5 linked regions of the Homo sapiens genome follow. The protein of the gene in region 4 purifies or fractionates together with the protein of the main gene of each other region. This does not show direct contact. Each region holds a gene or a part of one and is shown on either strand. Other genes may lie near its edges.

Evidence for each region.
Region 1: the proteins of DNA2 (region 4) and PASK purify together in Homo sapiens (affinity purification with mass spectrometry; one large-scale study listed by BioGRID and IntAct). This does not show direct contact.
Region 2: the proteins of DNA2 (region 4) and GLRX3 purify together in Homo sapiens (affinity purification with mass spectrometry; one large-scale study listed by BioGRID and IntAct). This does not show direct contact.
Region 3: the proteins of DNA2 (region 4) and PRKACB purify together in Homo sapiens (affinity purification with mass spectrometry; 2 studies listed by BioGRID and IntAct, with this or other methods). This does not show direct contact.
Region 5: the proteins of DNA2 (region 4) and IARS2 purify together in Homo sapiens (affinity purification with mass spectrometry; one large-scale study listed by BioGRID and IntAct). This does not show direct contact.

Annotation. Positions count from the first base shown.
Region 1 is NC_000002.12:241,108,536-241,113,283, forward strand, and holds part of PASK (PAS domain-containing serine/threonine-protein kinase), read right to left. Parts: intron 3,905-4,748; coding exon 3,705-3,904; intron 364-3,704; coding exon of another isoform or gene 164-363; exon of another isoform or gene 1-163. UniProt on the Homo sapiens protein: Serine/threonine-protein kinase involved in energy homeostasis and protein translation. Phosphorylates EEF1A1, GYS1, PDX1 and RPS6.
Region 2 is NC_000010.11:130,173,667-130,178,368, forward strand, and holds part of GLRX3 (glutaredoxin-3), read left to right. Parts: intron 1-1,200; coding exon 1,201-1,240; intron 1,241-1,330; coding exon 1,331-1,423; intron 1,424-4,702. UniProt on the Homo sapiens protein: Together with BOLA2, acts as a cytosolic iron-sulfur (Fe-S) cluster assembly factor that facilitates [2Fe-2S] cluster insertion into a subset of cytosolic proteins.
Region 3 is NC_000001.11:84,195,588-84,200,898, forward strand, and holds part of PRKACB (cAMP-dependent protein kinase catalytic subunit beta), read left to right. Parts: intron 1-1,028; coding exon 1,029-1,155; intron 1,156-2,141; coding exon 2,142-2,237; intron 2,238-5,311. UniProt on the Homo sapiens protein: Mediates cAMP-dependent signaling triggered by receptor binding to GPCRs.
Region 4 is NC_000010.11:68,413,564-68,416,768, reverse strand, and holds the end of DNA2 (DNA replication ATP-dependent helicase/nuclease DNA2), read left to right. Parts: coding exon 1-60; intron 61-1,661; coding exon 1,662-1,730; 3' UTR 1,731-2,705; downstream 2,706-3,205. UniProt on the Homo sapiens protein: Key enzyme involved in DNA replication and DNA repair in nucleus and mitochondrion.
Region 5 is NC_000001.11:220,131,053-220,136,363, forward strand, and holds part of IARS2 (isoleucine--tRNA ligase, mitochondrial precursor), read left to right. Parts: intron 1-3,349; coding exon 3,350-3,458; intron 3,459-5,311.

The sequences.
Region 1 (4,748 bases), on a different chromosome or scaffold from region 4:
TCAGGAACTTCCTTGTGGACACCAACCACAAGACGTGTCTACCAGAGGGGGGAGCGGGGGGAGGGCTTCCTGGAGGAAGCAGAGTACACGTCCATTGGCTTTGCTGAGGGCCACGGGAGCTGCAGGCCACTTCAGAACAGGGTCACGTGCCCTTCAGACGTGATCAGGCATGTTCACGATCTTGGTGTGAACGGGCTTGGTGTGACCATGGACACACATGCCCTTTAGGAAGATGGCTGTGGCGACGATGTGAAGGGTGCTGCAGGACGAGACTGAACAGGGAAAAACACCGAAGGATGAAAGCAAACAAGAAGGACGTGGTGAAGGTGGGTGTTCACACAGTGGGCCAAATGGAGGAGCAAGCTTCAGGGAGAAGACACCCAAAGGACTATTGTTACTTCCTGTCGCCGTAAACATCCTCATCCACGCTACCATTTATTTCCTGTCACCGTAAACATCCTCATCCACGCTACCATTTATTTCCTGTCACCGTAAACATCCTCATCCACGCTACCATTTATTTCCTGTCGCCGTAAACATCCTCATCCACGCTACCATTTATTTCCTGTCACCGTAAACATCCTCATCCATGCTACCATTTATTTCCTGTCACCGTAAACATCCTCATCCATGCTACCATCTATTGGGTACCTAGAGATGCCAATGCTGTACCAGCATTTTACATGGCTTAACCCAAATCCTCACAACAACCTAGCAAGATAAATATGACTTTCATTTTGCACAGAAGAGCAAGGCTTGGTGAGGTGAAGTTGCTGCCAAGCACGCACCAGAGCCAGGTCACCAGCACCCACAGCCCTGCCCCTGCACTGGCCAAGGCCATGCGTCTCCAGGTCCGCAGCTGGGGGTCTGTCCCCAGAAGAGGTCTGGGAAGCAGCAGCCTGTTCTCAGAACCAGAATTAGACAAGGGAGCCAAGAGAAACCACAGCAGTGAGAAGAGTGGCACGGACAGAGCCCCGGGCTGGACTCGGAGAAGAGGGGCTGGGAGGGAGGGGAGGGGAGGGGAGGGGAGGGCTCAAGAGGGCAGATCACAGAGGCCAGAGCAGCAGCGTGGGTGAAAGTCGGGCCCCCAGGCTGAGTCAGCAGGGTGGTGGGGTGGCTAGCACAGACCGCAGGGAAGCTGAGCGGACGGATGAGAGCTGTAGGGGCTAGAGCAAGAAAATCAGTTTCAGCAGTTTTTGTTTTTGTGTTGTTTCTGTTTTTTAGAGAGATTTCAAGATGTTTAGAAGCTGAAGAGAAATATCCAATAGAACAGAACAGAGGTTGGCAAACTTTTCCTGTGAAGGGTCAAATAGTAAATATTTCAGGTTTTGGGCCACATGGTCCCCACTGCAACTCAACTCTGTCATGTAGGACAAAGGCAGCTACAGACGACACATAAGCAAATGAGCACAGCTCCATTCCAATAAAACTTTATTTATAGAAACAAGAGGCAGGGGATGTTTGCACACACGTTTGTAGCAGCATCACGAACAACATAAAGATGGAAGCAAAAGGTAGAAGCAACACAAATGTCCACTGACAGATGAATAAGTACAGCATATCCAGAAAACGCAATCAAATTCAGCCTTGAAAAGGAAGATGCTGGCACAGGCCACAACATGGATGGACCTTGAGGACTTTATGCAAAGTGAAATAAGCCAGTCACCAAAAGGCAAATGCTGTACGATTCCACGTATAGGAGGTCCCTAGAGTAGTCAGATTCATAGAGAAAATAGCAGAATGGCAGCTGCCAGGGCCTGAGGAAGGGGAAGAGGGACCTAAGGCCACAGTCTGCCGACCCTGGAGTAGACGGAGATGAAGATGACAAGACAGAAGCCAGGGCCCTGAGGATGGGATTGAGAATAAGAACTCAGAAACCCTTTCATCCAGGGAGATGGGGAGAGGACGCAGGAGGGAGGAAGGAGCTCCTGAGAGGAGGCCTGCAGCCCCGCAGGCCCAGGAGCAGTACACCGCTCACAGCCAGAAAGGAGAGGCCAGGAGGCAGGGCAGAGCCCTGGCAGGGCAGGCGCTCAGGGAGAGGGTGGGAGCCACAGCTCTGGGAGGCAGGGCCAAGGTGGCCAAGCAGCACTGAGCTCTCGCCCAGGTTGGATCCCCCCTGCACCCTCCCCAAGCTTCACGGCCTGGGTACAGGAAGGGGTGACAAGCCATGCAGCAGGCATCATGGGTCAGTGGACAGGGGACAGGCAGTTCCCTCCAGCACGGAGGGCACGACAACCACTGCAGGGCAGGCAGAGCCCACCAGCGCCCACCAGGCTCTAGGGCAACCAAACTAGATCTGAAGGGAAACTCCACGGCCCTTCTTAGACCAACCCCCTTCGATATTTCACGCTGTTTGGTGGCTCTGAAGATGCATGGAGGTTCTAGCGGGGAAGAGCCCATTTTCACTTCCTCCATACTCTGCACACAGGGCATCCAGGCCCAGAAGAGCTCAACGCTGCCTGGCATGGAGAGGTTGGCGCAGGCTGAGGCTGCTGGGCTCTGAGGACTCAGGGTGTGCAGCCTGGAACCTGCACCTCCTAATGAAATATGGCCTAAGCAGACACCAGGATCCAGAGCCCAGCCACTCCTCTCCCCAATGCTGAGGCCCTCCCGAGAGCCCAAGGCACGGCATGGAGCTCGTGCGTGACTGCGAGCAAATGCCCTGGCCTCAGGCCACCAGGTCAGGTGCAGCAGGTCTGTGAGGGACCCCGTGTGCCTCTCCTGTGGGGGCAGCATCAGCTTCCCTCCTAGAGAACCACATGGAGCAGATATGGGCGGTGCAGCAGAGCACTGCAGCAGAGGGCCAGGAGGGTCCAAGCAGTGCTGTGATCATCCGACTCTCTAACCATGAACTCACCTAGAGATGCATTCCAACCACACCTCTCTAAAATACATGTAGGTGTTAGTGGAAAACACCTGCTATCTATTTCTGACTTAATAAAGTCTATTTCATACACATAGACACATTTGGTTTACAGGCAGATGAGACAGTGATCGGGCACGTCAGCAGACAGTCTCCACTCAGGCCCTACAAATGAACCACAATCTTCCTTTCCGTTTTGCTTTCCTCTCTAAAGTCCCCCGAGAGGAGGCCCTGCCCAGGCCGGCCCCCGACTCACAGGCTCCCCAGACTGCAGAGATGCAAACTCAGCCACACACCCAAGGACGCCGCTTCTCCCCACAGCAGAGCAGAGGCTCAGCTGGCCCACTCCAGTGACATGGAGTCTGGCTGGTCAGCGACAGCCCCTCCAGCCAAGGGCTCCACCTTCAGCACGAATCCTCTGCCTCGGGACTTTCTCTAGTGCTTGATTTCTTGTATGGTCAGCCCCGCGGTATTTTATTGAAATAGATATTATTCCTGTCATCAAAATAAATAAACCTAACTAAAAAGAATCCTCTTCACTTATTTGAAGAGTGCCATTTTGGGGGACTCTTCAATATTTTTCTTGGCTTTTTATTATATGAAACTCCAAACAAATAAAAGCTGAGAAAATAAAATTATTAACTCCTATATCCATCGCCCAGTGCCTTTGCCCAATATGACCTTGCCTGCCTGCCCACTTACTTTCCAGCATATCACCCTGACCACTCAACACTCATCACAAAGAGGCACAAAGGAAGCCATTTTCCCACCCAAAATCAAGCCACCCTCAGGGTCCTGACAGAGGACACGAGGACGGGCCGCACCGCAGCCGCATACGTACGGATTCCCCATGAGAACTTCCGGTGCACAGTACTCGATGGTCCCACAAAAAGTATAAAATAATTTTCCCCTTTCCAAGTAGGCGGCCGAGCCAAAGTCTATCAGCTTGATTGTGAAGTCCTCGGCGATCACGATGTTCTCATCCTTGATGTCACGGTGGATGATGTCCTTCAAGCGCAGGTATCCCACTGCTGACACTAGCTGGAATCAGGAGGCCAGAGGGGGCTTTTTAAAAAAGCAATTCAACTAAAATATGCATTTAAAATAAACTGGAACAAAAAAAAACACAAAGAAAAAATAAACCTCCGACTCATAATGAACTGGGGACAGGAAAGATTTTTCAATGCTGAAGATATGATTGGAAGCAAACAGGAAACAAAGCCCTTCAGGAGGCGTGTTCACTGGGGATGGCCACGTTAGCCGGCAAGGTGGCAACATCAATGAGACTCGTGAGTTCTGTTTGCTGCTGAGAAAAGCTTCCCAGCAGACACTCGCCCCCACCAACGCACACCATGCCTATTTCAGGAGGAAAGACAGGCCACAAAGCCACAGCTCAAAGACACTCATGGTGGGCAAGTGAATGGGTGCAGGTTTGGTGTTAAGTGGGAAGTACCCAAGAGAAAGCACCAAGTCGATAACCTCAGCTCACAGGGAGGGAAAGTGACTTGCCCAGAGTTCAGGCAGCAATTTGGGGCAGAGCTGGGAGCACAGCCTCAGTGGCTTCTCAGAGAGCAGCATGACGTATCAGCCATCCTTTCCCCAAATGTGTGGCTACTCAATGATGCAGACTTAAAGCAGTTACACTGGAAACGGGCTTCGTTCCCACGGAGGTGCAGCTGCAGTGCTCCACTGCCTGCCCACTCTGCCTCTCCAATAACAGAGGCCAGCAACATCGGCCTTTCAGTTTAGCTCAACTAGGATGAATTAAACGTCTGACTGTCATAATTTGGACACCCATTATACCAATCAACTTAGTGACTTCATGGATGTATCATGTTGATCTTTTGAGACAAATTTATATTTACAAATGAGTATCTTTCAAATC
Region 2 (4,702 bases), about 62 Mb from region 4:
TCATTGTTTTTATCACAGTATTAAGAGATCTGCCACCTTTAGTTCAACTTGAACAAAGACTTACATTGGGGTTTTTAAAAAGCATTAGGTTTACATTGGGGTCTTTTTTTGTTCTTCTTTCAAACATTCCTTTTTTGGTAATTGCTTCTGATTTATCCCGTCATTTAGTTTTTTTGACTGTTCCCTGTACCATAGACAGTTTCCTTGGGAACTTGTTTACTAAATAAACAAGATTTCCCTATGATGGTTTCAGTTTTATGGAAAGTCCAGTTTTTTTTACATGTAGCATTTTCTTTGGCCACCTTTGGGAATTGCACCTGTACCCTCAGGCACCCTGCAAGGATTTAGGCATACATGCTTGCTAATACCTGACCACCTAACGGTGAAATCGCTCTGAGTGGATACAGTTGGATATTCATGCAGTGATTTTTCATTTTTTGTACAAGTAATGTTCATTGTATGGTATAAAGCCACAAAGCTTTCATTGGCCTTTTGTACATTAAAAACAGCACCCTCTCTGAAATAAGTTTAAGTGTGGAAAGCATGTCTCTTGCTAAGGTGGAGGGAGCTGGCAGCGTGGTTGTTATCCGGCTGCTGAGCCCTCCAGCCTCCGTCCACGAGCACTACTACATCCTGCTGCACGGGCAGCTTCCAGGAGGTTAAGAAGCAGCAGCCTGGGGTGGGTTAGACATTAGAAGTGGGTAAGAGTGTTCAGTTAATGAAGGCTCGTGCAGATGGGGGTGTGGGTCTGATCCAGGGGTTGGCAAGTTGCAGCTGGCTGCCCATTTTTGTAAATAAAGTTATATTGGCACATAGCCACATCCCTTCATTTATACATTGTCTGTGGCTGCTTTTATGCTGACAGTTGCAGCAGAGAGCAGAACTGAGCAGTTGCAGCAGAGACTGTCTGGCCTGTAAAGCCTGAAGTGTTTAGTGTCTGACTCTTTAAGAAGAAGTTTGCCCACCCCTGGTCTAACCCAATATTGTCCGGAGAAAAATCCAGATAAAGTCATATGTTGGAATGACTAATTCTGTGTAGTACCAGACAGATTAAGAAGTAAAATCATTTCCATTGGTCTGTAGTACATTTTGTTAGCAGTGAAACGGTTTTCTTGATTATTTTAAAAACATCAAATGCATAGAGGTTTTACACTTTGATTTAACTGTATTTCCAGTTAAAATGTCTTCTCTTTTTTGCAGTGTTGAATATGAAACATTCGATATATTGGAGGATGAAGAAGTAAGTTCTGTGTTTGATGTTTCACCCTTGTCTTAGCTTTAATCTTAAGGGCCTGATAGGATGGTTTCAGGATTCCTGTTGTTTCTTTAGGTTCGGCAAGGATTAAAAGCTTACTCAAATTGGCCAACATACCCTCAGCTGTATGTGAAAGGGGAGCTGGTGGGAGGATTGGATATTGTGAAGGTAAGGCCAGTTCTTCTGCTGTTCTAAAGAACGGAAAAGATTTTGGTATGTTTAAAAATGATTTCATATTGAATGGAAACTTGAGAGTTGTTTTTGACTCCTGTTTCCAGCCTGACTCTCAGACATTTCTAGACCAGTATCACCGTTTCTGTGTGCATGACTACCCTGCCATTCTCACTGTCCCCACGTGGCAGCCTGTTCTTACTTTCACACCTGAGCTAACCATTGCATCTCCTTTCTGTGGGGTGATCTTCCCTGTCACTCAGGGTCCTTGTTAGATCCTGCTTCAGCTCCCAGACAACAAATTGTTTTTTCTTGCCTTACTCATCTGCCCTTGGGTGCATGGAGTGACAGCAGTGTGAGGCCTGTGGCCCGGTGCTGCCCATCCTTGCCACAGAGGCTGAGGATCACTGCCCCTGGTCCCCCGAAAGAAAAAATGTAGGTCCTTTTTGGTTTTGAGATGCTTGGAAATCTGTTATCTGTTAGATTGTGTTTTAGATAAGACACCATTTCTTATGTATCTTGAGTCCTTCCTGATGCTTTGTGTATTTTAGGAGTTCAGTAAATGGTTGTTGGATGGATAAGTGACTTTACTTCTTGATTGAGTTTTAAATGGACGTTACTTTGCATGTATTTAATGTCTAGAATTCAGGGCAGGCCCACCAACTAACACCTGTGTGCTCTGTAGCTCTTTGATTAGCCCAAAACAATAAACAGAAGCTGTAGCTTTAATATCTACACACAGACCCCACTGCACCCCAGGCCCACTGTGGGCATGGTGGCATCGAGGAGGGTGGTAGCTGGTTGGGTATAGAGAGGAGCTAGACAGGAATGCTGGGCAGGAATGCCAGGGTCTGCTCAGGGGCATGAACAAAACTGCCCCGAAAAGTGGGTTGCTGACTGCCCTCAGGCCTTCCTCTTGCCTCAATCCATGAGAGAATTTTCTGAGGTCAGATCTTCGACTTTTTATGTGGAAAACAAATAGCAAGTAGTACTACTTCTAGTTATGTTGTAAAATAAAAGTTTTTTTTTTTTTTTTACATTTTTTTTTGAGAGAGTTTCGCTCTTGTTCCCCACTGGAGTGCAATGGTGCAATCTCGGCTCACTGCAGCCTCTGCCTCCCAGGTTCATGTGATTCTCCTGCCTCAGCCTCCTGAGTAGCTGGGATTACAGGCACCCGCCACCACGCCCCACTAATTTTTGTATTTTTAGTAGAGATGGGGTTTCACCATGTTGGCCAGGCTGGTCTTGAACTGCTGACCCCAGGTGATCCGCCCACCTTGGCCTCCCAAAGTGCTGGGATTACAGGCATGAGTCACCGCGCCTGGCCAAAATAAAAGTTTTTAACACGTGCTTTTGTAAAGTGAAGCACTAGCCTACCACTGAAATGACATCAGCACTTTGGACCAATATGTTTTATAAAAACAAAGCTTGAGTTCCATTGATGCAGAGGCTCTTTTTGTCCTTTGGTGGCCTCTGTGTAGGTTTTGTTTCCTGTGGAGTTCCAGGTTTGATATCATACTTCTTAAACAAGCCAGTGAGACATTTTTCCTGGGGAATGGTCTCACTCCTGGAGGAAAAAATTTTTAAGACTATTGCTCTTGAATAGCCCTGAAGCAGCAGAAACAGATCTGCATTTGTTTCTTCCCTCCCTCCCTCCTTCCCTCCCTCCCTCCCTCCCTCTTTCTCTCTCTCTCTCTCTCTATATATATATATATAGTCTTATTTTTGTAAGACACAAAGAATACTCAAACCCCAAATACTCTTGAGCCTGTTCTTGTCTGAATGTTTTATAGCCTGTACCTTAGCCATTGGTAACTCTTGGGAAGATACAATCAATAAATCTCATTTAATTCTAAAGCTAAGCTGCGTGGGTAACTTCTTTTTAGTTATATAACAGAGTGTTATATGATTTTTTATGTTCACCTGCTAAGAACATATACGTTTGAAATGTGTGATATTGTTAACGTTTTTCCTTGAGAAGATATATGGAATAGATCTTACGATCCCATTTTGATCTGTTTCTTGCAGAATGCAGTTCTTCATGTTCAGTTCAATTAAAAGATGTTTGAAATGGTCTAATCTGGCTGGCCTCTTTGGAGCAATGAGCGTTTGTTTTGTTGAATGAGGGACTGAATGATGATTTAGTTACTCAGCTAATCTAGTGTCCTGAGAAAATTGTGAGTTGTTATTGCCTCTGAAGAGTAAACGGTTCACTACTGCTGTTCCAGAATGTTTGGACTTAAGACAGTTTGTTGAGAGAGATAGAAGATTTGGTTAGGTTTAGACTTTCCACCTGCCGGCTCGCATTAACAGCAGTGAGGGTGGCGAGGACTGCCTTATTTGGCGCGCTCCCAATGTTCCAGGCACACTGCTTTGGTGCTTTAAGAGGCTGCTTCACGTAATCTCCCAAGCAGCCTCAGAGAGCAGAATTCTTCTTAGTCAGTAGATGAGGAAACAGAGACATAGAGAGGTCAGGTGAATTGTCCACCATCCCATAACTAGTAAGCCATTGAGTCCAGATTCCACCTGAGGGCCACCTGCCCTTGCCCACTCAGCTGCGTGGTCCTCTCCGTGCCTTCTTGAGTGTGTGCTCAGAAAAGTCCTGCTGGGTCCCTTGGAGGGGCAGGGTGTCTGCTTGTTGAGTAGGTAGAAGAAGATCCCTAGACATGACTGAAAGCCGTCTGGGTTTTGTGTGACAGCATCATTCCTATTTGAATTTCATCCAGAGGAGGTCATACGGATTTTAATGGTTTTATTGATTGATGTTTATGCTGTTCAGTGATAACCTGAAATGTTATATCATACTAAATGTTTCTTTAAACCAGAAAATCTTATTTATCATGTCTGTCCTTTCAAGCTTGGTGTCTATAATCCAGATTTTAAATCTGAAAAACAGGCACAAGGAGCATGGCGCCTGTACTGCAGTTCCAGTCAACCTGGTGGTAGCTCTTTTGATGCCATGTCTGTTTCTGAATTGTTAGGTCTTTTTAATGGTTTCTGCCTTTCCCTCTTACTGGTACTCTAGCTTTTCCTGAGGCAGAGATGTGTTGCCAGGTTGGGTTTCAATAGCAAAGCCTGATTCCTCTCTGTGAGTGGAAGAACGGGAGGGGAACAAGCATCATATTTGAGTAGACTTTTAACGTCACACTGCTTTTTTTTTCTTCCTTTTTTTCGAGACAGAGTCTCACTCTGTCACCCAGGCTGGAGTGCAGTGGTGCAATCTTGGCTCTTGGGTCACTGCACCCTCCACCTTCTGGGTTCAAGCAATTTTCATGC
Region 3 (5,311 bases), on a different chromosome or scaffold from region 4:
AAATTACACTGATCTATTAATCTAATATATACATAAAAGAACTAGCTGGGTGCGGTGGCTGACTCCTGTAATCCCAGCACTTTGGGAGGCTGAGGCGGGTGGATCATTTGAGGTCAGGTATTCGAGACCAGCCTGGCCAACATGGTGAAACCCCGTCTCTACTGAAAATACAAAAATTAGCCGGGCATGGTGGTGGGCGCTTGTAATCCCAGCTACTCAGGAAGCTGAGGCAGAAGAATCGCTTGAACCCAGGAGGCGGAGTTTGCAGTGAGCCAAGATTGTGCCACTGCACTCCAGCCTGGGCAACAGAGCAAGACTGTGTCTCAAAAAAAAAAAAAAAGAACTGTACGTATTTACACTAACATAGAGATTATACTTATGTCTGTGAATCTATGTAAACAAGCATAGTAAAAGATTTGGAAATTCTGATGCCAAGATTGTATCTATGGTTTCTGAATAGGTTTATGAGTATTCATTATTCTTCATCAATATTTTATGATATTTTTCCATAACGAGCGTATGTCATTTTTGTAACAGGAACTATTACAAAATGGGTAAAATGGCATTAATCTGCAGATAAATGCAGCTAAAGAGCTTCTACATAGGGAAATTCTATAAACACTTGAAATTTGTGAGAAAAGTAGATGGAGCCTGTTAACTATAGCAGTGGCCCCGATAGACACTCCATTTGGCACATTTGCTTTCCAATTATTCTCAAGATCAGACATAATTAGAAAGACATCAATATATTTAAATATGGGCAATAATGATTCACAATGAGCTAACTATTTTAGGTTTATATTTTTCCTCAACATATGCTTCCCCATAAATTTATCAGAGCGTTATTTGAACAAAATATAGAGATTTAATAAATATTTGAAAAGTAACAAGGTTCTTTACATACTTTTTAAAAAAATACTTTTTGTTCCCAAAGTACCTCTACTTCATATTAGTTTTTATGCATAATCTACTAATTAGAATGTATTAACTCATTTTTACAGAAAATCAATGGTTTTATTTCTTTGCAGTGAGCCCCATGCACGGTTCTATGCAGCTCAGATAGTGCTAACATTCGAGTACCTCCATTCACTAGACCTCATCTACAGAGATCTAAAACCTGAAAATCTCTTAATTGACCATCAAGGCTATATCCAGGTATGACTTTAACACATTATGTGTACTGTATATGAGAAAATACTAGGCAAGACATTGTATGTATGTAACCCCAACTTGGAATTTTTTTTGAAGAAGACACTTTCTCCTAATAGTTTAAGTAGAGCTCAGAGTTTTGCTGCTATTACAGAGAAGCAAAAATCCTGTTATGAAAGGAACTTGTTTATATCTCCATTAATCTATAGTTGTGAACTGAGTATAGCCTCTTGCATAAGGAGATATTAATAGCTAAATCTATGAGCAGTTATTAGTGCCAGGCATATTCCACTTGTTTTACATGTATTATTTCTTTAATCCTGATAAACCTATGAAGTGGAAATACCATTGTTATCTTCATTTTAAGATTAACAAAACTAAGACATAGCAAGGTCATTTAGCCAATAAATGGTAGAGTCAGAATTTGAACCTAGGCAGTCTGATCCCAGAGTCCATGCCCTTTACGACTACAATATAACTGCCAAAGAATCCCTGACTACCAATACTGAACTCGTAGCAACGTTTTCTTTCCACTTCTACTACTAATAAAGTGGGAGCATTTCTTTTTACACAATTATTGATAGATTCTCCCATTGACGTTTTTACACTTCTGATGGTGCAACTAATGGCAGAGGACACATTGGGGTAAGGCAGACATTTAGCATTGTTTCATTTTTATTAATGCTATTTATTTTTACCTTTTATTTTCACTTTTTTATTCCTTGGGTCTAGGATCTTATAATAATGACTGAAAAGAGTTTTGTTGTTATTAATTTGTTCCTTTTCTTTGAGTTGAGGAAGGATTTCCAACTTGGATTGTTTAAACTTTCATTCACTAGATATTCATGAATGAATTTCAATTACGTGGACTTAATTTTTTTTCCATTTCTTTCATAGTTTCAATTTGAATTTTAAACTTTCAACGTAGGTGCAATAAATACATTTATTGTGAGGTAATACATTTTCACTAGTATTCTTTTTTTCTTTTATAGGTCACAGACTTTGGGTTTGCCAAAAGAGTTAAAGGCAGAACTTGGACATTATGTGGAACTCCAGAGTATTTGGCTCCAGAAATAATTCTCAGCAAGGTATATTCATAATATCAACACATAAGAAGTAGAAATATGAGACATGCATCCCTATGGACTTTTGTAAAAACAGTTTATTGATCTAATTTTACATTTTTAATTTGATCTAAGTTATGAATTTAAATCTATTTGTGCATGATTACTAAAGAATTATTATTTAGCATCTACCACTAATCCTGTAACCTCTGTCAATTTTAACTCTGGGTCTTAGAGATATAATATGAATAAATATGACCTCTAGATCCATGTTTTGCAACCAAAAACATAGTCTTTTCTTAATTATTCCTAGTAACGGAAGGGTAGAGAAGACTTGCTCTGGATTATACCAAGAGGTAAATCTAGAGATGATATGTACTAGTTGTCCATTCTTTCTTTGTTTCAAATTTACCAGTTAAATAAAAGGAATGTATGAGAAGTGTTTTTAAATTTTAAATAGGACTATTAACAGCAATTGAATAGTTTTAGTCTTATTGAAGGCAGCTCTGCTTTTCTAAATAGTGAAACGTGGTGAGAGAAACTGTACCTATATCCAAAAGAATGGTTAACTTTTCCTCTGCCATCACTTGGTGGAGAAATCTAGAAAGGAGAACCTAACAATAACCAGGCACAAATAGGAGAGAGGAAAAGGAAGGGGATAAGACACATGCTTCACTGGTTCCCAAATGGAATCATTGAAATATGGCTAACTTATAGAAGTGTTAAAATAAAAGATTTCTTTCAACTTTTCTCTCATTATCTTTCATAATTTAAATAATATGTAACTTCTTGATATTTTATAATCTAAATATCATTGTAGTTAACACATTTCTTTAAATACAGTTAACAAATAATGGGACAACAAAATGAGCACTAAAACTTTTACAAATGTGTATATATTGTAAAAGTAATACTCATTATACAAAATTTAGAAAATACAGAAAAACATAAACAAACAACCAAAAAAAAACCTATATGTAATCCCACCAACCTAGACGCAGCCTTTTTAAAAACATTCATATATGTATGTACATATATGTATATATGTGTATATGTGTATATATATACACCACATATATGTGTATATATGTGTATATATATACACATATGTGTGGTGTGTGTGTATATATGTATATGTGTATATATACATATATATTCATATATATGTGTATACGCATATATGTATATATGTATATGTGTATATATACATATATGCGTATATATACACATATATACGCATATGTATGCATATATATATGCGTATATATGCATATATGTATATATATGCGTATATATGCATATATGTATATATATGCATATATATATATATATACACACACATTTTAGCTTTATTTTAGCTTTCATTTTAGGTTCAGGGATACATGTGAAGGTTGGTTACAGACGTAAACTCATGTCATGGGGGTTTGTTATACAGATTATTTCATCACTCAGGAATTAAGCCCAGTACCCATAGTTATCTTTTCTTATCCTCTCCCTCCTCCCTACCTCCACCCTCAAGTAGAATCCAGTATCTGTTTTTTCCTTCTTTGTCTTCATAAATTCTCATCATTTAGCTCCCACTTACAAGTGAAAACATGTGGTATTTGGTTTTCTGTTCTGCATTAGTTTGCTGAGGATGATAGCCTCCAGCTCCATCCATGTTCATGCAAAAGACATGATCTCATTCCTTTTTATAGCTGCATAGTATTCCGTAGTGTATATGTACCACATTTTCTTTGTCTAGTCTACAATTGGTGGACATGTAGGTTGATTCCATGTCTTTGCTTTTGTGAATAGTGCCACAATGAATAAACAAATGCATGTGTCTTTATGATGAAATGATTTATAATCCTCTGGGTGTATACCCAGTAGTGGGATTGCTGGGTCGAATGGTAGTTCTGCTTTTAGCTCTTTGAGGAATCTCCATACTGCTTTCCACAATGGTTGAACTAATTTACACTCCTACCAACAGTGTCTAAGTGTTCACTTTTCTCTGCAACCTTGCCAGCATCTGTTATTTTTTGACTATTTGTTTATTTATTTATTTATTTATTTATTTTCTGGAGATGGAGTCTTGCTCTGTCGCCCAGGCTGCAGTGCAGTGGCGTGATCTCGGTTCACTACAACCTCTGCCTCCTGAGTTCAAGCGATTCTCGTGCTTCAGGCTCCCAAGTAGCTGGGACTACCGGCATGCACTACAACACCTGGTTAATTTTTGTATTTTTTAGTAGAGACAGGGTTTCACCATATTGGTCAGGCTGGTCTTGAACTCCCGACCTCAAGTGGTGCACCCTCCTTGGCCTCTCAAAGTGCTGGGATTACAGGGGTGAGCCACTATGCCCTTCCATTTTTTTACTTTTTAGTAATAGCCATTCTGACTGGTGTGGAATGGTATCTCATTGTGGTTTTGACTTGCTTGCATTTCTCTAATGATCGGTGATATTGAGCATTTTTTCATATCTTTGTTGGCCGCATGTATGTCTTGTTTTAGAAAGTGTCAGTTCATGTCCTTTGCCCACCTTTTCATGGGGTTGTTTGTTTCTTGTAAATTTGTTTAAGTTCCTCATAGATGCTGGATATTAGACCTTTGGCAGATGCATATGGTTTGCAAATATTTTCTCCCATTCTGTAGGTTGTCTGTTTACCGTTGATAGTTTCTTTTGCTGTGCAGAATCTCTTCAGTTTAATTAGATCCCACTTGACAGTGTTTGCTTTTGTTGGAATTGCTTTTGGTGTCTTTGTCATGAAACCTTTGTCCATTCTTATGTCCAGGGTGGCATTGCCTAGGTTGTCTTTCAAGGTTTTTATACTCCGGGGTTTTGCATTTAGGTCTTTAATCCATTTTGAGTTGATTTTTGTATATGGTATAAGGAAGGGATCTATCTTCAGTCTTTTGCATGTGGCTAGCCAGTTATCCCAGCACCATTTATTGAGTAGGGAAACTTTTCCCCATTGCTTGGTTTTGTCAGCTTTGTCAAAGATCGGGTGGTCGTAGGTGTATGGACTTATTTCTGGGTTGTCATAGTTGAAATCATAGTAAATATATATAGTCTTGTCTCTGACTTTTTTCACTTTTATAATAACAAGCATGCAAACAT
Region 4 (3,205 bases):
TCACTAAATTGCTATCCTCCTTTGGAGAAGCTGCTTAATCATTTAAACTCAGAAAAATTAATATCCTTTTTCTTCTGTATATGGTCACATTTGATTGCACTGTTGTGAGTATTTATTTGCTTGTTTAAATTAAAGCTCTCACTATGTTGCTTAAGCTGGTCTTGAACTCCTGGGCTCAAGCGATCCTCCTGTGTAGGCCTCCCAAAGTGCTGTGATTACAGATGTGAGCCACGGCCCCCAGCCTATAACCCTTTTTTAATCCAGAACAAATGATTAGATTAAAATGGAGTATTATTTATTTTATATACAGGGCCTTGCTTTGTCACCCAGGCTGCAGTGCAGTGATATGATCAGAGCTCACTGCACCCTCAATCTCCCAGGCTAAAGTGATCTTCCTACCTCAGCCTCCCCAGTAGCTGGGCCCACAGGTGCATTCCACCATGCCCAGCTAATTTTTGTATTTTTTTGTAAAGACAGGGTTTCACCATGTTGCCCAGGCTGGTTTTGAACACCTGGGCTCAAGTGATTCACTCGCCTCCTCCCAAAGTGCTGGGACTACAGGTGTCAGCCACCACATTCAGCCTTTTTTTCCCCCAAGAAGTGGTGCCTAACTTCACTCAGGCTGGAGTGTAGTGGCAGGATCACTGCTCACTACAGCCTTGACCTGGACTCAAATAGTCGTCCCACCTTACCTTTCTGAGTATCTGGGACCACAGGTACGTACCACCACGCTTGGCTAATTTTTTAAAATTTTTAATAGAGAGGAGGTGAGCCACTGCACCTGGCCTTAAGATAAATCGTTTTTTAAAAATGTGTATGGGCTGGGCCTGGTGGCTCACACCTGTAATCCTAGCACTTTGGGAGGCTGAAGCAGGTGGATTGCGAGGTTGAGATTGAGACCATCCTGGCTAACATGGTGAAACCCCGTCTCTACTAAAAATACAAAAATTAGCTGGGCATGGTGACGTGTGCCTGTAGTTCCAGCTACTCATGATGCTGAGGCAGGAGAATCGCTTGCACCCGGGAGGCGGAGGTTGTAGTGAGCCGAGATCTAGCCTGGTGGCAGAGCGAGACTCCGTCTCAAAAAACAAAACAAAACAAAACAAAAAAAACAGTGTATGAAGTTCTTAGGCTTCATAAGAACTTCATACTTCTTATGAAGGTATGAAGTAGGCTAAGATAAATAACTCTGAGGCTGGGCGTGGTGGCTCACGCTTGTAATCCCAGCACTTTGGGAGGCTGAGACAGGCGGACTACCTGAGGTTGGGAGTTCGAGACCAGCCTGACCAGCATGGAGAAACCCTGTCTCTACTAAAAATACAAAATTAGCCGGGCATGGTGGCACATGCCTGTAATCCCAGCTACTCGGGAGGCTGAGGCAGGAGAATCTCTTGAACCCAGGAGGCAGAGGTTGCGGTGAGCTGAGATCGCACCATTGCACTCCAGCCTGGGTAACAAGAGTGAAACTCCATCTCAGAAAAAAAAAAAAAAAAGATAAATAACTCCTGTTGCTTAAAGGCATAATTATTCATTGAATGCCATAAAGATCCTTATTTTTTTTTTGTGGTCCTGTAAGTCAAATTACAAAATGTTAAATAATAATGTCATAAATTTATGCCATTCCATATTGTGCTAAATATTTCTTCCTTAATTTATTTTACATCATTGATCTTCCATCAAGAGAACATGAAAGTCTTTGCCACATATTGGGTGACTTTCAAAGAGAATAAAACACTATTTCCCTTGCCTTTTCATACTAGGGCAGTATCTCCTCTAGCTAGTGCCCATACAGAAAATTCTATCACCATACAAAATTTAATGCAGTATTTATGTTTTAAAGCACAGGTGTACCGAAAACTGTGAAAAGTCTGAATTTATGGGTTCTATGCATGCATTTTTGCCTAACCTAGAGAAAGAGTTTGATAAATTTTTACCAGCTTTGAAGATGGATTAACTTTTGACTTTGAGCTTTAAACTTTTAAGTCAGACATTTCAGGACTAATTTGATTTTGTAGATATCATTGTAAGAACTTTATTTGAAAGACTGAATAAAGGGATTTGATTTGTTTTCATCATTTAAGCACAGTCTTGTGATGATGAGAACATAAGTGTGATTCTTTTCTGTATTTTGAGGTCCCTAATCCAAAGCCCATTTTGCTAGGATTTTTTCTGCTATCAGATGTGTTTTCACTCTAAACCTAGTCTTTTATGACATGAATTGATTACTTCCTGTTAATTTTCTATCCTCCCTTACTATCCTCCTTTTTTGTTTTCAGTATTCAGTATTTCAGTATTCTAGAGTAGATTTTGATATAAAAGAAAATAATTCTTACATCATCTTTTGCAACAAATTTTGTTTTCTGAATTGATAATAAATTTAAAAAGTTGATTCCTATTTTCACATATGTTCATATGCCCCTATGTTTGGGGGTATCACTCAGTTTTCCCTTTTTTGTGTAAAGATGTTTTGTAAAACAAAATTGTCTCAAAGTGATTATATTATATATATAAAAAGTAACAGATTTTAACAAAGGTTAAAAGATTCTTGGGGTAACAGATTCTTCTGGGGCTTGGAAATCTTCCATTTCTCTTGAGGGTTTTTTTTAATGAGTGTTAAATATGTTAAAATTTTTATTTCTACCTCATGTGTTTTTTTAAATTATTACTTGAAGTTTTTTATTTAATAAATTTTTTCTACTAATGGATCTTAACTGTGTCAATTATTATTAATACTGAATAATAATTAAACTCAGGGTTATCTAGCATGTTTTGTTTTTTTTTTTTTTGAGACGGAGTCGCCCAGGCTGGAGTGCAGTGGTGCGATCTTGGCTCACTGCAAGCTCTGCCTCCCGGGTTCACGCCATTCTCCTACCTCAGCCTCCCGAGTAGCTGGGACTACAGGTGCCCGCCACCACGCCTAGCTAATTTTTTTTTTTGTATTTTTAGTAGAGACGGGGTTTCACCATGTTAGCCAGGATGGTCTCCATCTCCTGACCTCGTGATCCACCCACCTCGGCCTCCCAAAGTGCTGGGATTACAGGCGTGAGCCACCGCGCCCGGCCGCATGTTTTCTGATAGTGACAAGTGAAGTATTGATCATGCTAGAAAGCTGAAACCAAGCAGCATTGATATTATAAAGAGATTTATGAAGGGCACACAGGATGGGCTTGATCATGGAGAGGGGTTATAGATTAGATAGGACAAA
Region 5 (5,311 bases), on a different chromosome or scaffold from region 4:
CTTTGACTATTTGGGAGGCTTTTGTGTTTCCTTATGAATTTTAGGATGAATTTTCCATATGAATTTTTCTGTTTCTGTGAAGAATATCATTGGTATTTTGCATGGAATTGCATTGAATCTTTATTTATTTATTTATTTATTTGAGACAGAGTCTCGCTGTGTCGCCCAGGCTGGAGTGCAGTGGCACAGTCTCGGCTCACTGCAACCTCCGCCTCCCGAGTTCTAGTGATTCTCCTGCCTGAGCCTCCAGAGTAGCTGGGATTATAGTCATGTGCCACCACACTCGGTTAATTTTAATTAATTAATTAATTTTTTTGAGATGGAGTTTCACTCTTATTGCCCAGGCTGGAGTGCAATGGCGTGACCTGGGCTCACTGCAACCTCCACCTCTCGGGTTCAAGCGATTCTCCTGCCTCAGCTTCCCAAGTAGCTGTGACTACAGGCATGAGCCATCACGCCCAGCAAATTTTGTATTTTTAGTAGAGACGGGGTTTCTCCATGTTGGTCAGGCTGGACTCAGAACTCCCCACCTCAGGCGATCTGTCCGCCTAAGCCTCCCAAAGTGCTGGGATTACAGGCGTGAGCCACTCTGCCCAGCAATTTTTATATTTTTAATAGAGATGGGGTTTCACCATGTTGGCCAGGCTGGTCTCGAACTCCTGACCTCAAGGGATCAGCGCTGCTCAGCCTCCCAAAGTGCTGGGATTACAGGCATGAGCCACGATGCCTGGCCACGTTGAATTTTTTTTTTTTTTTTTTTTTTGAGATGGAGTCTCACTCTGTTGCCTAGGCTGGAGTGCAATGGCACGATCTCAGCTCACTGCAACCCCCGCCTCCTAGGTTCAAGCAATTCTCCTGCCTCAGCCTCCCGAGTAGCTGCGACTACAGGCATCCACCACCATGCCTGGCTAATTTTTTGTATTTTTAGTAGAGACGGGTTTCACCATGTTAGCCAGGATGGTCTCGATCTCCTGACCTCATGATCCACCTGCCTTGGCCTCCCAAAGTGTTGGTATTACAGGCATGAGCTACCGCAAGTGGCCTGTTGAGGATTTTTGTGTCTTTGTTCAACAGAGATACTGGCCTGTAGTTTTCTTTTTTGTTGTGTCTTTGCCTGGTTTTGGTATCAGGGTAATGCTGGCTTTGTACAGTGATTTAAGAAGAGTTTCCTCCTCTTCGATGCTCTGGAGTAGTTTGAGCAGAATTGTTGTTCTTTATATATTTGGTAGAATTCAGCAGTAAAGCCATCTGGTCCTAGACTTTTCTTTGTTGGGAGATTTTTTGTTACTTATTCAGTCCGGTTACTCCTTACTGTTCTATTTCTTCCCGGTTTAATCTTGGTAGGTTGTATGTGTCCAGGGGTTTATCCATTTCCTCCAGGTTTTCCTATGTGTTAGTGTACATTTGTTTATAGTAGTCTGTGATGATCCTTTGTATTTCTCTGTTGTCTGTTGTATGTCACCTTTCTCTCTCTTTTTTTTTTTTTTTTTTGAGATGGAGTCTTGCTCTGTTGCCCAGACTGGAGTGCAGTGGCCTGATCTCATCTCACTGCAAACTCCACCTCCCAGGTTCAAGCAGTTCTCTGCCTCATTCCTCCCAAGTAGCTGGGGTTACAGGTGCCCGCCACCATGCCTGGCTAATGTTTGCGTTTTTAGTAGAGATGGGGTTTCACCATCTTGGCCAGGCTGGTCTTGAACTCCTGACCTCGTGATCCACCCGCCTTTGCCTCCCAAAGTTCTGGGATTTTACAGGCGTGAGCCACCGCACCCAGCCCCATGTCTCCTTTTTCATTTCTGATTTTGTTTATTTGGATCTTCTTTTCTATTTTCTTAGTCTAGCTAAAGATTTGTTTTCACTGCATATGCATTTACCTTCTTACATTATCTCAGACTTTCCTGGCTGCACAGACTAGATTAAACTCTTTATTTTCCCCTTGGTAACACCCATCACAGTTATTTCTTTTCTTTTTTTTTTTTGAGACAGATTCTTACTCTGTCGCCCAGGCTAGAGTGCAGTGGCACAATCTCTGCCCACTGTAACCTCCACCTCCCAGGTTCAAGTGATTCTCCTGCTTCAGCCTCCCAAGTAGCTGGGATTACAGGCGCCCACCACCGTGCCCAGATAATTTTCGTGTTTTTAGAGATGGGGTTTCGCCATGTTGGTCAACCTGGTCTCGAACTCCTGACCTCAGGATTTGCCAGCCTCCACCTCTCAAAGGGCTGGGGTTACAGGCACGAGACACTGCACCCGGCCCCATCACAGTTATTTCTTGCTTAACATAAAATCTACCCTACTAGGTGTCAGCTCCAAGAAGGCAGAGTCCAGATTTCCCCAGGGTCTAACACAATGCCTGCTATATAACAAGTGCTCAGTAATATTGGTGCAATTGAATTGGTTTGATTCAGTTATTTAAATTTTGTTTCCCCACCTCCACTCAGTTAATCTTTCTTACATGAAGATTACAACACTAAATTTTCAGTCTTAGGACATAAGGACAAATCATAATTTTACAAATAAAAGGGATTATGGGGGCTTTGAGAGTTGTGAGTTTAGATTTAAAATATAGATGTAATCTTTATCAACGACCTCATGTTACTTTTTTTTGAAAACCCTTTTATTTTGAAAAGTCATAAAGTATCATGAAGAATTACAGCATGCTCTTCATCTAGATTTCCCAACGTTAACATTAACATTTTGCTACAGTTGCTTTATATATCCTATGTATATATATGTAGAGGAAAAGATGCATCTTTTATCTCAATATTTTAGTATATATTTCCCCAAAACATGGATAGTCTCTTAACATAACCAACACAGATATCAAAATTAGGGAATTAACATTGATTCCATACTGTTAACTGTCTATAGAACTTATTCCTAGGTGGAAAGAGGAAAAAAAAAAAAGGACCCAAGATCTAATCTGAGATCACATGTCACATTTAACTGTCATGTCTCTCTAGTTCTTGTTCTGTGTCTTTCATGACATTTCATGACATTGCTTGACATTCATGCAGTACAGGTTTATTTTGTAGATGGTCTCTCTGGGTTTGTGGGATGCATTGTCATGATTAGATCCACGTTATGCATTTTAGGTAGGAATATCACAGAAAGGATACTGTGTTTATTTCAGTACATCATTTCAGAAGTCACGTGATACATCTCTGTCCCATTACTACTGGTGATGTGTAACTTTGGTCACTTTCTTGGTTAAGGTGGCATCTGTCAGTTTTCTCTATTGTAAAGTTACTTCCCTTCCTCCCCACTAATTGTTATTAATAAGTATCTTCTTTTTCTATTTTAATTAACTTAAATTTCTGGGTTTTTTTTTCTTTTAATACTTAATTTTGAGGTCCTGACCAAAGAGCAGATTTGTACTTGGAAGGAAAAGACCAGCTCGGGGGTTGGTTTCAGTCATCCTTATTAACAAGTGTGGCAGCAAGGAAGAGAGCACCTTATAAGTAAGTATTTATGCCTGAACCAACCTGCTGAGTACCTGCCAGTGTGTGAAGCACTATGCTGAGTACTACAGAGATGATAAGGCACCACTCTTGATTGCTTACAGTGTCCTGTAAGAATTTGAAGTAAAAAAAGAGAAAGGAAAAAGGAGACAACACCAAGGTGTCTTGTGAGTGTGATGCAGATCATAACTCTTTGAAGAAAAAGTCAGCATTGACTGGAGTAGTTGGGGGAACTTATGTAGTTCTTTGTTGTTGTTGTTTTTTTTTTTTTTTTTGAAAAAGGATCGCATTCAGTCACCCAGGCTGGAGTGCAATGGTGTGGTCAGAGCTCGCTGCAGCCTCCGTCTCCTTGGCTCAAGCAATCCTCCTGCTTCAGCCTCCTGAGTAGCTGGGATTACAGACATGCACCACCACACCTGGCTAATTTTTAATTTTTTTTTAGAGGTGCGTTCTCCTCCCATTGCCCATGCTGGTCCCAAACTCCTGGCCTGAAGCAGTCCTCCTGCCTTGGCCTCCCAAAGTGGTAGGATTATAGGCGTGAGCCACCATGCCTGGCCTAGAACTAGATCTTGATCTATGGTAAAACTTGACTAGGAGGAATGTAGGGAAGGATATTCAAGGTTGAGAGAAGACAGCCTGAGTGCAGATGTCCTTTATATTTGTAATATCCACAGTGGCTAGTGAACTGAAACATTGCTTTCATGAATTTTATTAAATTAGGTATTCTCATTTAGTACACATAATTACTTTTTCAAACGTGTGGGTGAAAGTACTAATCAGAAAGATTCCTAAATAGCTTAGCTTAAGATTGTGGCTCTCTTAGGATAAAAACCCATCCCAGAACATTTCACATGTTTCTTTTTTTTTTGAGATGGAGTCTTGTTCTATTGCCTAGGCTGGAGTGCAGTGGTGCGATCTTGGCTCACTGCAGCCTCTGTCTCCCGGGTTCAAGCGATTCTCCTGCCTCAGCCTCTCGAGTAGCTGGAATTACGGAGCATGCCACCATGCCCGGCTAATTTTTGTACTTTTAATAGAGACGGGATTTCACCATGTTGGTGAGGCTGGTCTCAAACTCCTGCTCTCAAGGGATTCACCCTCCTGAGCCTCCCAAAGTGCTGGGATTACAGGCGTGAGCCCCCACGCCTGGCCCTTTTACATGTTTTTGTTTCTTAACATGCGTTTTAAAGACCAGTAAAAGGGCAGATCCTATTTTTTTCAAATTGTCTTTTGAAAATAATTTTGAGATGATAATCTGCTCTTTTTAAGACATACTTTTTCCTGGTTTTATTTTTTCATTTAAAATTTTTTTTTTTTTTTTTTTTTAGTGAGTTATATAGTTTTTCCGCTATCACCACAAGAGGTTTTATAACATTTCCAACACACTAAAAAGTTTTCTCATGCCCATTTGTGACTAATCTCCACTCCCACCCCAGGGCCCCTGGCAACCACTGATCTCCTTGCTGTCTCTGTAGTTTGCTCTTTCTAACCTGGTTAGTTTTAATGATAAAATCAGTACATAGCAGAAGCTCAGAAAATAATCTGTTTAGTGATGAAAATATCTAAAGTTTTCCTTTGTGTAAGTCGAGAGTTAACTGTTTGACTATTGTGATACATGAGCTAAGAATGACTTTTTTTGTTTGAGATGGAGTCTTACTCTGTCTCCCAGGCTGGAGTGCAGTGGAACGATCTCAGCTCACTGCAATCTCCGCCTCTTGGGTTCAAGTGATTCTCATGCCTCAGCCTCCCAAGTATCTGGGACTACTGGCACACACCACTATACCCAGCTAATTTTTGTATTTTTAGTGGAGACAGGGTTTCACCATGTTGGCCAGGCTGGCCTCGAGCTCCTGGCC